Regions from separate parts of the Homo sapiens genome. Here regions 2 and 3 are each reported to be linked to region 1. Evidence: microRNA targets listed by miRTarBase, many of them from high-throughput screens and not tested one by one. Region 1 holds a microRNA gene; each other region holds the end of a gene's coding sequence.

Region 1 (4,354 bases):
TGTATTTTTTTAGTAGAGTTGGGGTTTCACTATATGTTGGCCAGCCTGGTCTCAAACTCCTGACCTCAGGTGATCTGCCCACCTCGGCCTCCCAAAGTGTTGGGATTATAGGCGTGAGCCACCGTGCCTGGCCAATTTTTTGTATTTTTTTGTAGAGACGGGGTTTCACCATGTTGGCCAGGCTGGTCTTGAATTCCTGGCCTCAGGTTATCCGCCTGCCTGAGCCTCCCAAAGTGCTGGATTACAGGCATGACCCACCAAACCCAGCCCAAATATATTTGCATATATATATATTTTAATATCCCACGCCTACACTCTGGGATAACTCAGCTCTTACAGGCAGTAATCATGGGTCAGACCTGCCATTATCCAGTTCAGCCCATTTCATTTGACAGACACCTGGTGAATAGAGACATGCAGGGACTCTTGTCCACATTTGCCCAGTTGGCTGATAGCACAGTGTACAAAGTCTGTCTGCAGCAGGTCATAATTTCACAGCTCTGCCACATGCATGTATATCACTGTACCAAGCGTGTTCACATGGTATGGTGCTGACACATGTTGACGGAATGTGGTACAGACCCTCTGTGTGAAGTGTGTTCACACAGTGCGGTGCTGACCCTCTGTATGAAGCGTGTTCACACGGTGCGGTGCTGACTCTCTGTATGAAGCGTGTTCACCTGGTGCAGGACAGACTCTCTGCATGAAGCATGTTCACACAGTGCGGTGCTGACCCGACCCTCTGTATGAAGCATGTTCACACGGTGCAGTGCTGACTCTCTGTATGACACATGTTCACACAGTGAGGTGCTGACCCTCTGTATGAAGCATGTTCACGTAGTGCAGTGCTGACTCTGTATGAAGTGTGTTCACACAATGAGGTGCTGACCTCATGTATGAAGCATGTTCACACAATGCGGTGCTGACCCTCTGTATGAAGCGTGTTCACACGGTGCGGTGCTGACTCTCTGTATGACACATGTTCACACAATGCGGTGCTGACCTTCTGTATGAAGCGTGTTCACACAGTGCAGTGCTGACCTTCTGTATGACACATGTTCACAGAGTGAGGTGCTGATCTTCTGTATGAAGCATGTTCACATGGTGCAGTACTGACTCTCTGTTTGAAGTGTGTTCACATGGTGCAGTGCTGACCTGTATGAAGGATGTTCACGCGGTGCGGTGCTGACTCTCTGTATAACACATGTTCACGCAGTGAGGTGCTGATCTTCTGTATGAAGCATGTTCACACAGTGCAGTGCTGACTCTCTGTATGAAGTGTGTTCACACGGTGCATTGCTGACCTTCTGTATGAAGTGTGTTCACACAGTGAGGTGCTGATCTTCTGTATGAAGCATGTTCACACGGTGCAGTACTGACTCTCTGTATGAAGTGTGTTCACACGGTGCGGTGCTGACTCTCTGTATGAAGCGTGTTCACACAGTGCGGTGCTGACTCTCTGTATGAAGCATGTTCACACGGTGCGGTGCTGACTCTCTGTATGAAGTGTGTTCACCTGGTGCAGTACAGGCTCTCTGCATGAAGCATGTTCACACAGTGCGGTGCTGACCCTCTGTATGAAGCGTGTTCACACAGTGCATGTGAAACCAGAACCGACAGTCGAACCCAAGCAGAAGTCTTGACCAAGCACTTCCCTCCTGGGAATGCACCATGATATCACCACACCGAAGTCCAGGCTGGCAAATAGGGACATTTAAGTGACATTTAAGCTCGTGGTGGCCCTATGAGGAGTCATTGCTGACTGAGATGGGATTTTAAGGTGTTGCCTGCCTGTGTGTTCTCAGACCCTCTCCTGAAGCCCCACCCCTTCCCCTGATCCTCTCCTGGGACCCCCCTCCCCTATCCCTGACCCTCTCCTGGAGCCCCCCTCCCCCCTCCCTGTCCCTCTCCTGAAGTCCCCTCCCCTGACCCTGTCCTGGGACCCCCTCGCCTTTCCCTGACCCTCACCTGAAGTCCCCTCCCCTTTCCCTGACCCTCTCCTGGAGCCCCCTCCCCTCTCCCTGTCCCTCTCCTGAAGTCCCCTCCCCTGACCCTCACCTGGGACCCCCCTCCCCTTTCCCTGACCCTCTCCTGGGACCCCCTCCCCTTTCCCTGACCCTCTCCTGGAGCCCCCTCCCCTCTCCCTGTCCCTCTCCTGAAGTCCCCTCCCCTGACCCTCTCCTGGGACCCCCTCCCCTTTACCTGACCCTCTCCTGAAATGCCCTGCCTGCACCATTGTCTTATATTTTTCTCATGGTTAGACTGGGGTTATGGTTTTTTCTGGGAAAGGCCACAGAGGTAAAGTGACATCTCATTGTGTCATATTCAGGGTCCATGCCATCAACATGACTCATCAGTGCTGACGCGGTGATGACCTGGGGGACGCAGTGTTTCTCAGGTTCCCCCACTGAGCCTCTGCAACTCCAGTAGTGACAAACCGCTCCACCCCCCGCCATCCATTTTCTTAATTGTTCAATTGCTAGTATCACATTTCATCAAGAGACGCATAGCAGAGTCCAACCAAGACTCCATGATAGAGAAACCAGGCAAGAACTACTGTCTCGTCGCAACTTGAGGAGACAATATTTCTTGCCTGGTTTCCCTATCATGGAAACTGAGTCCCCCACAGTTTCGTTTCCTCAATCGAGCTAATTACTGAGGTTGCTTAGCAGCCTCCGGAGTGAGCACAGCGGAAACTATCATTAGGGAACTTTGAACGTTTCTGTGAAATGCCAACAGGAAATGTTTCGGCATTTTCAAAATATTTAGAAAATTCCCTGTTCAGTTACAAAAGTGAATCTGAATCTTACCCTGCAGAAGTTAAACTGCTCCCTCTTCTGGATAAAATTACCTTTGTAATTTCTTTTTACAACCTACAGCCTATTGTGCTTGGGTTTCCAAATGGTTTAAAGTTCCCTTGTCCCTTACTTTGTGTCAAGGGGGTGTTTGTGCCTTAAAGGGAAGATCCTGTGCCTTAAAGGAAACCAGAACTGATAGTCGAACCCAAGCAGAAGTCTTGACCAAGCACTTCCCTCCTGGGAGTGCACCATGATATCACCACACCGAAGGCCAGGCTGGCAAACAGGGATGTACACGCAGGGGAGACGAGAACTTCTCCCGTGAGAAACAGCACAGTCCAGCCATATGAACCCACAGCTCAGGAAGTATTGCTCACTTTTACTGTTCTCTCTTAGGGAAGGGCATTCTCAAAACGTTTCCGCACAAGCAGACCATCCCTTTTATTTTCCCCGTCTGTCTCCTTTCCTTCTGCTTTCAAAATGTCTCAAGAGTATTTACAAGAGTTGAGCAACACAGGCATCTTTATCTGGGGTCTTTATCCACAGAGCAGAGGACAGGAAGTCATCACTACAGAGACGAAGCGATGTATGGTTTGACCCAGTGGAGGACTTTGTTAAGGTGGAGGTGTGAGTGTGGAGTGTAAACGTGGGACATCCAGGGCAGTGGAGGGTAACCACTGGAGAGGAAGTCTGGGGACAGTTTGGGAGCAGCCAAATATAAAATAAGCATTTCTGTTCTAAATCCAAATGAACATTCTACGCTGCTGTCATCTCCAGTATACCTCAGAGATCCTAAAGTTTCCTGAAGTTGTTTGGAAGTCACGGCCGATGTAAAGTGAAAGCGCACACATATCTGTAAGCTCTGAGCTCAGGATTTCACGTGAGGTCCTTTGTTCGGGAGGCAGGGGGGTTCTCCCTGTTGCTGGCTGAGGTCACTGCATTCATAGTGTGACAGGAGACAGCACAATACAGCAAAGCAGCTGGAGGGATTGCCTTGTAGAGTGGAAGACCTTCCGCAGAACAGAACGCTCTCTGTCCTGTTCTGCTGGAGAATGAAAAGGGATGGGTGGCCTGCGTGAAACCTCTTTATGGGGCTTGTGCGTTCTGACACTGTGACCGCCGAGGCCACAGCTGCCTTTGTTTCTTCCTCTCTGACCTCCATGAAGGGCTAGCGCACAAACTTGGACAGGGACGGCTCTATCTCTTGGGTGATATTCTGGAAAAGTCAGTCTTGACTTAGTCAAAGGCATCGGTAATTCCCCAACAGCTGAGAGCAGACTCCATGCTGCGGTTTTCTTGTAACTTGAATCGAGGAGACTTCCACATCTTTGCTATCCATTGCGCCTGGCTTTGTCCACTCGCTGACTTCTTCATATATAAGCTCATTTTCCACCTGGAAGAAAAGAGGAGAGAGCCTTAGGGCCCCAGCATTGGGTCCGCACCGAGGCCTACACTGCTCCCCCCATTCCCACCTAGGACCATGGCATCCCAGTCCTCTCTCCCTGTGGGAGGCTTTCACAGAGGTTCACATGGGCCCAGGCCACTATGATTTTCTG
Region 2 (3,000 bases), not on the chromosome of region 1:
CTAGGAATCGTGTCTCCACAAAGGCAGGGGAGCCTGACCTCCCACAGCCCCTCGGAATCCAGTGCCCCCATAAAGGCAGGGGAGGCTGACCTCCCACAGCCTCTTGGAATCCAGTGTCCCCAAAAAGGCAGTGGAGGCTGACCTCCCGCAGCCCCTCGGAATCCAGTGTCCCCACAAAGGCGGGGGAGGCTGATGTCCCGCAGGGCATCAAGTTACCCTTGTTTCCAAGTTCTTCAGCACAGATGCTCTGAGGATAGATGCCCTGCTTTGCAGATGAGGAAACTGAGGCTCAGAGAGACCAAGTTCATGATCTGGCAACCAGGAATGGCCAGGGTCCCCTCCCAGCTGGGGTCTGCACTGACTAGGTCCACAGGGCTCCGGAGCCTGAGATGGCTGTGTGGGCCAAGCCCTAGTTGTAATCCCCCCATGCACCCAGCTGTACACCCCACGTGCCAGTAGGACTTACAGAGGGGCAGGCATGAGCTCAGCATGAACAGGGCTGCCCCAGTCAGCAGTCACCCTCACTGATGGCCACCTCGGGCCTGGAGGCAGGGCTGAGCTAGGCCTAGTGGGCTGCAGTGGGGCTGTAGTGGGGCTGCAGTGTGGATCCCTGAGGGTGCTTCCCCCTGAGGATCCAGGACCCTGATGGAGGCTGCCCTGTTGGTGCTCCCCCGAGCCCCCGGAGACCTCTCACTACACCCATGGGGTCTCCAGGGTGACCCTCTGGGCCGGGGGACCTGTGTCTGCAGCTCCACCCCTGCCCAGCCCAAGCACACAGAAGAAACAACATGAACACTCCAGGAAGTTTCAGTGTTTTATTAACAAAATCTTACAAAAAGAGTCTGTCTCTGGGGTAAGGTGCACAGGGCCTGGACCGACATTTAAGGCCTGGTCTGTGTGGGGCAAGGGGCAGGGGTTGGCCACAGCCTCATGAGGTTTCCAGGGTCTTCACAGGCTCCAGGGCTTCCCCAAAGCCTGTGCCAGCCTTGAGGATTGGTTATGGCTTATGTGCAAAAATAAAATCTGTGGGGCTGGCAGGGTGTGGGCTGAAGACTTGTCAGAGTGGTCTGCAGGGCTGGTCCCCCAGTGGACAAGGCAGAACGATGAACCCTGAGCCAGCACCTGCTTAGGCTGCAGACGCTAGTGGCCCACCAGCACCAGGGTTCTGGTGTCGGGGCAGGGCAGAATGCCTGGAAGCGCCCCAGGAGCCATGGCTTCTGGGATGTCCTTCCTGCAGCTGAGCTCAGGGCTGCTGGGCAGGGGTAGGAGCTGTGGCCCCAGCCTTGGGGCTCATGAAAGCCTCTGGCAGAGAGGATGGCCTGGCAGCGGGCGGGGTTTCCCTGCTGGGAGGGAGGCAGGGCCCGACTCCTGCTGCAGTGGCTCTGGGGACGGGCAGCTGGCGGCCAGCGGGGCGGGCTTAGTGGCAGGCCCTGGTCCTCGCGCTGGCGCTCAGGGCTAAGCTGGGGCTCCTGCCCTCTGCTGCAGCCGACTCCTCTCTGTAGCCCCCCTCTGGGCTGTCCTGGGACTTCGCCTCCCACGCAGGCAGCCTGCAAGGTGAGGGGTGGGTGGTGCCCAGCACAGCAGCAAAGACTTTGTGGGAACCTTGAGACCTGAAAGAACAGGAGAGTGGGCAGTGAAGGACCACGCAGGACAGTAGCCAGGGCTCCATGGGGAGGGGCTGGGGCCGGTGGATGGCGCTGGTCTTCCAAGGCAGAGGCCCCCCGACCCCGTCAGAGCCTCCCAGCGAGCCCGAACACTGGGGAGTGGCCTGGGCCGCAGGGTGTCTGGGGTCTGGGGAGGAGCTCATTTGGCCGGGACAGCTGATGGTGGGGTCTGGGTGGAAGGGTGGTGCTCCGTTACCTGTTGTCACTCTCCTGGCTCTGATGGTGCCAGCTGCTGCCTCAGCCGGATTTGAGGACTCAGCCCCTCTGGGACCCTCCGCCTGCCATGGGTGAGTCATGAGCTGAGCTCTGATTCTTCTCCAGGCGGGCGTGAATCACTGGAGCTGGGGGAGAGAAAGCGCGGGTCCATGTGAGAGCTGGCTCAGCAAACTGCCCCTGCCTCCCACCCGGCCCACTCTCCCCAATGCCCCCTTCCATGATGCCAGCCCCACCCCATCCCTTTGGCTAACTTGCTGGGGGCCCAAGCCTCAGTGGGCTCTCCTAGAAAACAGCCTCCGGATCCCGCCAGCTCTCAGATGCCCCACAGCCGGTACTGCCTTGGGGCAGGGGCTCACCTGAGGGGCCAGGAAGCACCGGGACATCAGGTCTGCTCTGCTGCGTGTGCGACTTCTACTCTCCCCTGGGAGGAGGGGGCCGCGCTGCCCGAGGCTGGCCAGCTGCCCTGGGAGGCAGGGAGGGCGTCAGCTGGCTCTGCGGATGCCGGGAGAGGGCGGCGGCGCCGGAAGTCGAGGCTCCCTCAGCATTGGCTCTGCCCTAGCTTCTGCTCTGGGTGTCCCATGAGCTTGGTGGCCGCTGGCCCCTGCCATCCGGACACTTGGTTTTCTGGATGTCCAGAGGGCCTGGGTGTTGTAGCAGAATGAGGAAGCTGGGGTGTTCTGTGATGGCCTGAGAGTGTGGAGGGTGGGGTCCAGGCCGGAAAGACAGACGGAGGGAGGGTGATGGGTGGAGCCCTGCAGGGGGGAGGGCTCTTTGCCGCTGGGTGCGGTGCTCACATCTGGATGACACGAGTGTGTGCGAGTCCGCCCGGAGCTCGAGGGGGCACCCAGCTGGACCAGGGCTTCCCCTGCAGGAGTCAGCCCCAGCTCAAAAGTCCTGGTGGGCAAAGCCACAGGCTGGATGTAGTGGGCAGGCTGGGGGCTCCGGGATGCCCTCTACTCGGGCTGGGTCCGGTCACTGGCCACGGACTCGCTGTTGGGGGCGGGCGTGAGGGTCTCCGCCTCATCCTCCACCGGGAGGTGGGGGCCGGCCGGCTCGGCCGCCTGCTCCAGGTCATCCTGCACCTCCATGCCCCTCTGGATGAGCTGCTCCAGGGTCTTGG
Region 3 (3,000 bases), not on the chromosome of region 1:
TTTTAATAAATGGTTTGTATTCTTTATCATGACCAGTGTGTCCAAATTTATTCACTGTTAGGTAAATGAGTGTCTTGAGTATAAATGAGTTCAGACCTTTTAGTAAAGAAAAATGAATATGTGAAAGCAGATTATTATTAGATGTTAAAGTCTAGATACAAGTCCAGGTTCTCTGGATGGCATTAGTCAGCAAATCATTTTTTCATTTTATAGAATTTACCAAAGTATTCATTCTTGCTTATTTTTCTTAGAATGCATAAACTTGTAAAACCTACTACTGAAAAGAAATATGTGGATCTTACTGTGTCATTTGCTCCAGACATTGATGGAGATGAAGATTTGCCGGGACCTCCAGTAAGATACTACTTCAGTCATGACACTGATTAATACAAGTTGTCTTAACGTTACTCCAGGACCACTTGATTTTGGAAAGAGTGCACTTAATTCAGAAGCTAAAGAAAATCAGTTCATAATACTATGGATTTCTCTTTCATTAAGCCTTAATTTTAAGGGAAACATCAGTAAGAAACTGCACTGAAGAATTATAAAACATTTTGGGGCATAGCATACACTTGTCTAACGGTTCACACGTGGCTATGATCACAAGCAACTTTGAACTGGAATGCTATTTACAAAAGTTTTGTGTATTAATCTGTGTATTAATCTCTCTGGATAAAAAGAAGGAAAAAATATGTATGACCAGAACAGATATGGATGAAGAAATTGAAAGCAACGAATGCAACTATTCAAAAAGTTTAATTTTATGAATTTCTTTTTTGTTTAGTCTTGAAGACTGATTTTCTATGCAAATAGTGTTTGGCATCCTGCACCTCTGATATGATTTGGCTTTGAGAATTTAATACCACTGGGAAGAAGTATGGTAGTGGTGGATGAAGGGTGGATATTTTAAATTGTGCAGTTACAGTTTACTGTCCTATTACCTCTGCTCGTTTAACCAGTTTGTTATATCACTGTGTCCCCAAAATCAGGATTTTTGTTGATAGCATCAGTGTTGTAGGAGCAATAGGTCAGATGAGACATATTAACTTAGACTAAACGTGAACAGTATTATATGGACTCTCACAACGCTCTTAGAGAATCCGTGAATGTGAACAGACAAATGTGGCTAACCATTTGATTCTTCAGTATGCCTTCTAATGTGGCTATTTTATTTATGTGAGACTCTAAACCTGATTGTCCTAATATATAAAACTAAAAGATTTTGTAAAGGGAGTGTCTTTAGAAATAGATGAAATGTAGAATGTTAAAAATTATTGCTAGGGTAGTCTTTTTTTTTTCCAGAAACCTAATTAGGGTATTAAATTTTGTGTTTTTTTTGTTTTTTTTTTTTAAACAGAAGCATGTTATTTCATTCCCATTCCCAGAAAGGGAGTTAATGAAGATAAAAATTTATTTTTTAAGGTCTTTATTGAGAGAAACTTTGTTTTCTGATATGAACTATTGCAGATGTTTTTATAAATACTTTCATTAAAATGATGTAAACAGTAGTACCCAACACTGTAAACTCAGTGAAAATAGTAAATGATTCTTTTATTACTAAGACTGTCATGCATTCTGAAGCAGTTGGCTTTTTTTTAACCATAGGAAGTAATTTCCCTCTAGCTCCTTTCCTTCTACTCTCCTGCTCAGACCATTAGTAGGTACTTTGTTAAATAAAAAACTAGATTAACATCAATATTACTCCAATTTGGTATCTTTTACACTATGTATTATACCTACTTTCTTTTTATTTCATTTACAAATAGTTTAAATTACTTTATCAACCAGCTGTATTGTTTCCCTCTTGTAAAAGTACCATCAAGTGGGGAAAATGTATGTGGAAGTGGAGAGTGAATTTGTATGACTAAAGGATAATCTGTACATGGGGAAGTGGGCAAAAGTGGATAGGATGAATTTAAAGAAAATGACTACCTTTGGAAAAAAGAAATTAAATTTTGTTCACATATCCTACCCTTTCCCATTGTGCATATCCCAAGTGTCATATTTAAAACTAAGGTTACTTAAAACAGAATCCAGGAATATCAAGGCTCTGTGGCTTGGAATTTTAGAGGATAGGACTAATAAAAGGACTTTTGCAAAGAAGGCTTTTTTCCACGTTCACTTTGTTTTGTGTTCTTTGAAAGTAACTGATACTTTTCGGGTAGTTAATTCAGCAGTCCATAAATATGATCCAGTAACTTGCTTATATTTTATTGAAGTCTCGACAGCTCTTCAGAAGTAAATTTAGAACGATGCTGTCAGTTCATATTTATAGATATTAGTGTTTTAGCAGATAAAACAAAATCAACAAAAATTAAGTTCATTTTGTGATTAAACCTGCAACCATTTTTCCATTACTTTTTTTCTATAGTTAATGGTTATTGCCATGATTTCTTCTGTTTGGTTCTACTAAGCTAGAAAGCCAGGGTGAAGTTAATGATAATTCCCATTATTTTATTTCTGTACCATGAGATTGCTGTTGATGACTGAAATACCAGGTGCAAAAATTAATGATTTGATTTTTGTACAGTTTCAATGAGTATTTTTTACTTATTAAAAATAAATTAAGAAATGTAAGAATATCTTTGTAAATCATGTTTCATAAGTTGACTCCAGAGATTCTGATTTTGCTGTTTATTTTGTGAGTAATGTTGCTTTGGTGTTTCCTGATTTTCAAGTTTGCAATCATGGAGATACAGCAGTTATTAGGTGTGGAAGGACATTACCTCAAATGTCCTCAGATGGCTCCAGGAAATTCTTTTAAAACAGTTGGAGAGAAATAGTCGTGACCATGTAAAACCTAGAGGATCTGGTAAATCCCATACTACTGGTTAGGGATTTGTAAAGTCCATTTCTTTTTAGAGTTCAAAGCAGTTCTGTTACTTGTCCATAAGTTCCTCATAAATTGTCCCAAAGGTAGGACATGGAAATAAATGTATATCTTTATTTTTTAATCTACTATGTCACACTCTGGTGATATTCATGGAACATTAAAAAAGC

The links. The annotated mature microRNA hsa-miR-4645-5p reads ACCAGGCAAGAAAUAUUGU and lies in region 1 at 2,580-2,598, opposite strand. An mRNA with a match to its seed (bases 2 to 7 or 8) in the 3' UTR can be bound and repressed. Matches are read on the target gene's strand: a 7mer-m8 pairs with bases 2 to 8, a 7mer-A1 pairs with bases 2 to 7 and ends in A, and an 8mer does both.
Region 2: the mRNA of ARC is a reported target of hsa-miR-4645-5p. Seed matches in the 3' UTR shown: 7mer-A1 at 2,589-2,595 and 7mer-A1 at 1,981-1,987.
Region 3: miRTarBase lists UBA6 as a target of hsa-miR-4645-5p. The part of its 3' UTR that is shown has no 7-base or 8-base seed match.

The regions. Positions count from the first base shown.
Region 1 is chr6:2,851,500-2,855,853 of GRCh38, forward strand. MIR4645 (microRNA 4645) reads right to left here and starts at 2,608; the gene lies at 2,532-2,608. It also overlaps the pseudogene SERPINB9P1. RefSeq lists enhancers at 843-1,032, 2,328-3,068, 3,645-3,704, 3,765-3,894.
Region 2 is chr8:142,610,248-142,613,247 of GRCh38, forward strand. ARC (activity regulated cytoskeleton associated protein) reads right to left here. Exons shown (of 3, transcript NM_015193.5): 1 at 2,237-3,000; 2 at 1,861-2,005; 3 at 802-1,610. The coding sequence ends at 2,834. Among named protein-coding and RNA genes, the nearest start is that of ARC, 2.7 kb to the right of the region's middle.
Region 3 is chr4:67,616,384-67,619,383 of GRCh38, reverse strand. It overlaps UBA6 (ubiquitin like modifier activating enzyme 6), which reads left to right. Exons shown (of 33, transcript NM_018227.6): 33 at 252-3,000. The coding sequence ends at 387. Among named protein-coding and RNA genes, the nearest start is that of STAP1, 59 kb to the right of the region's middle.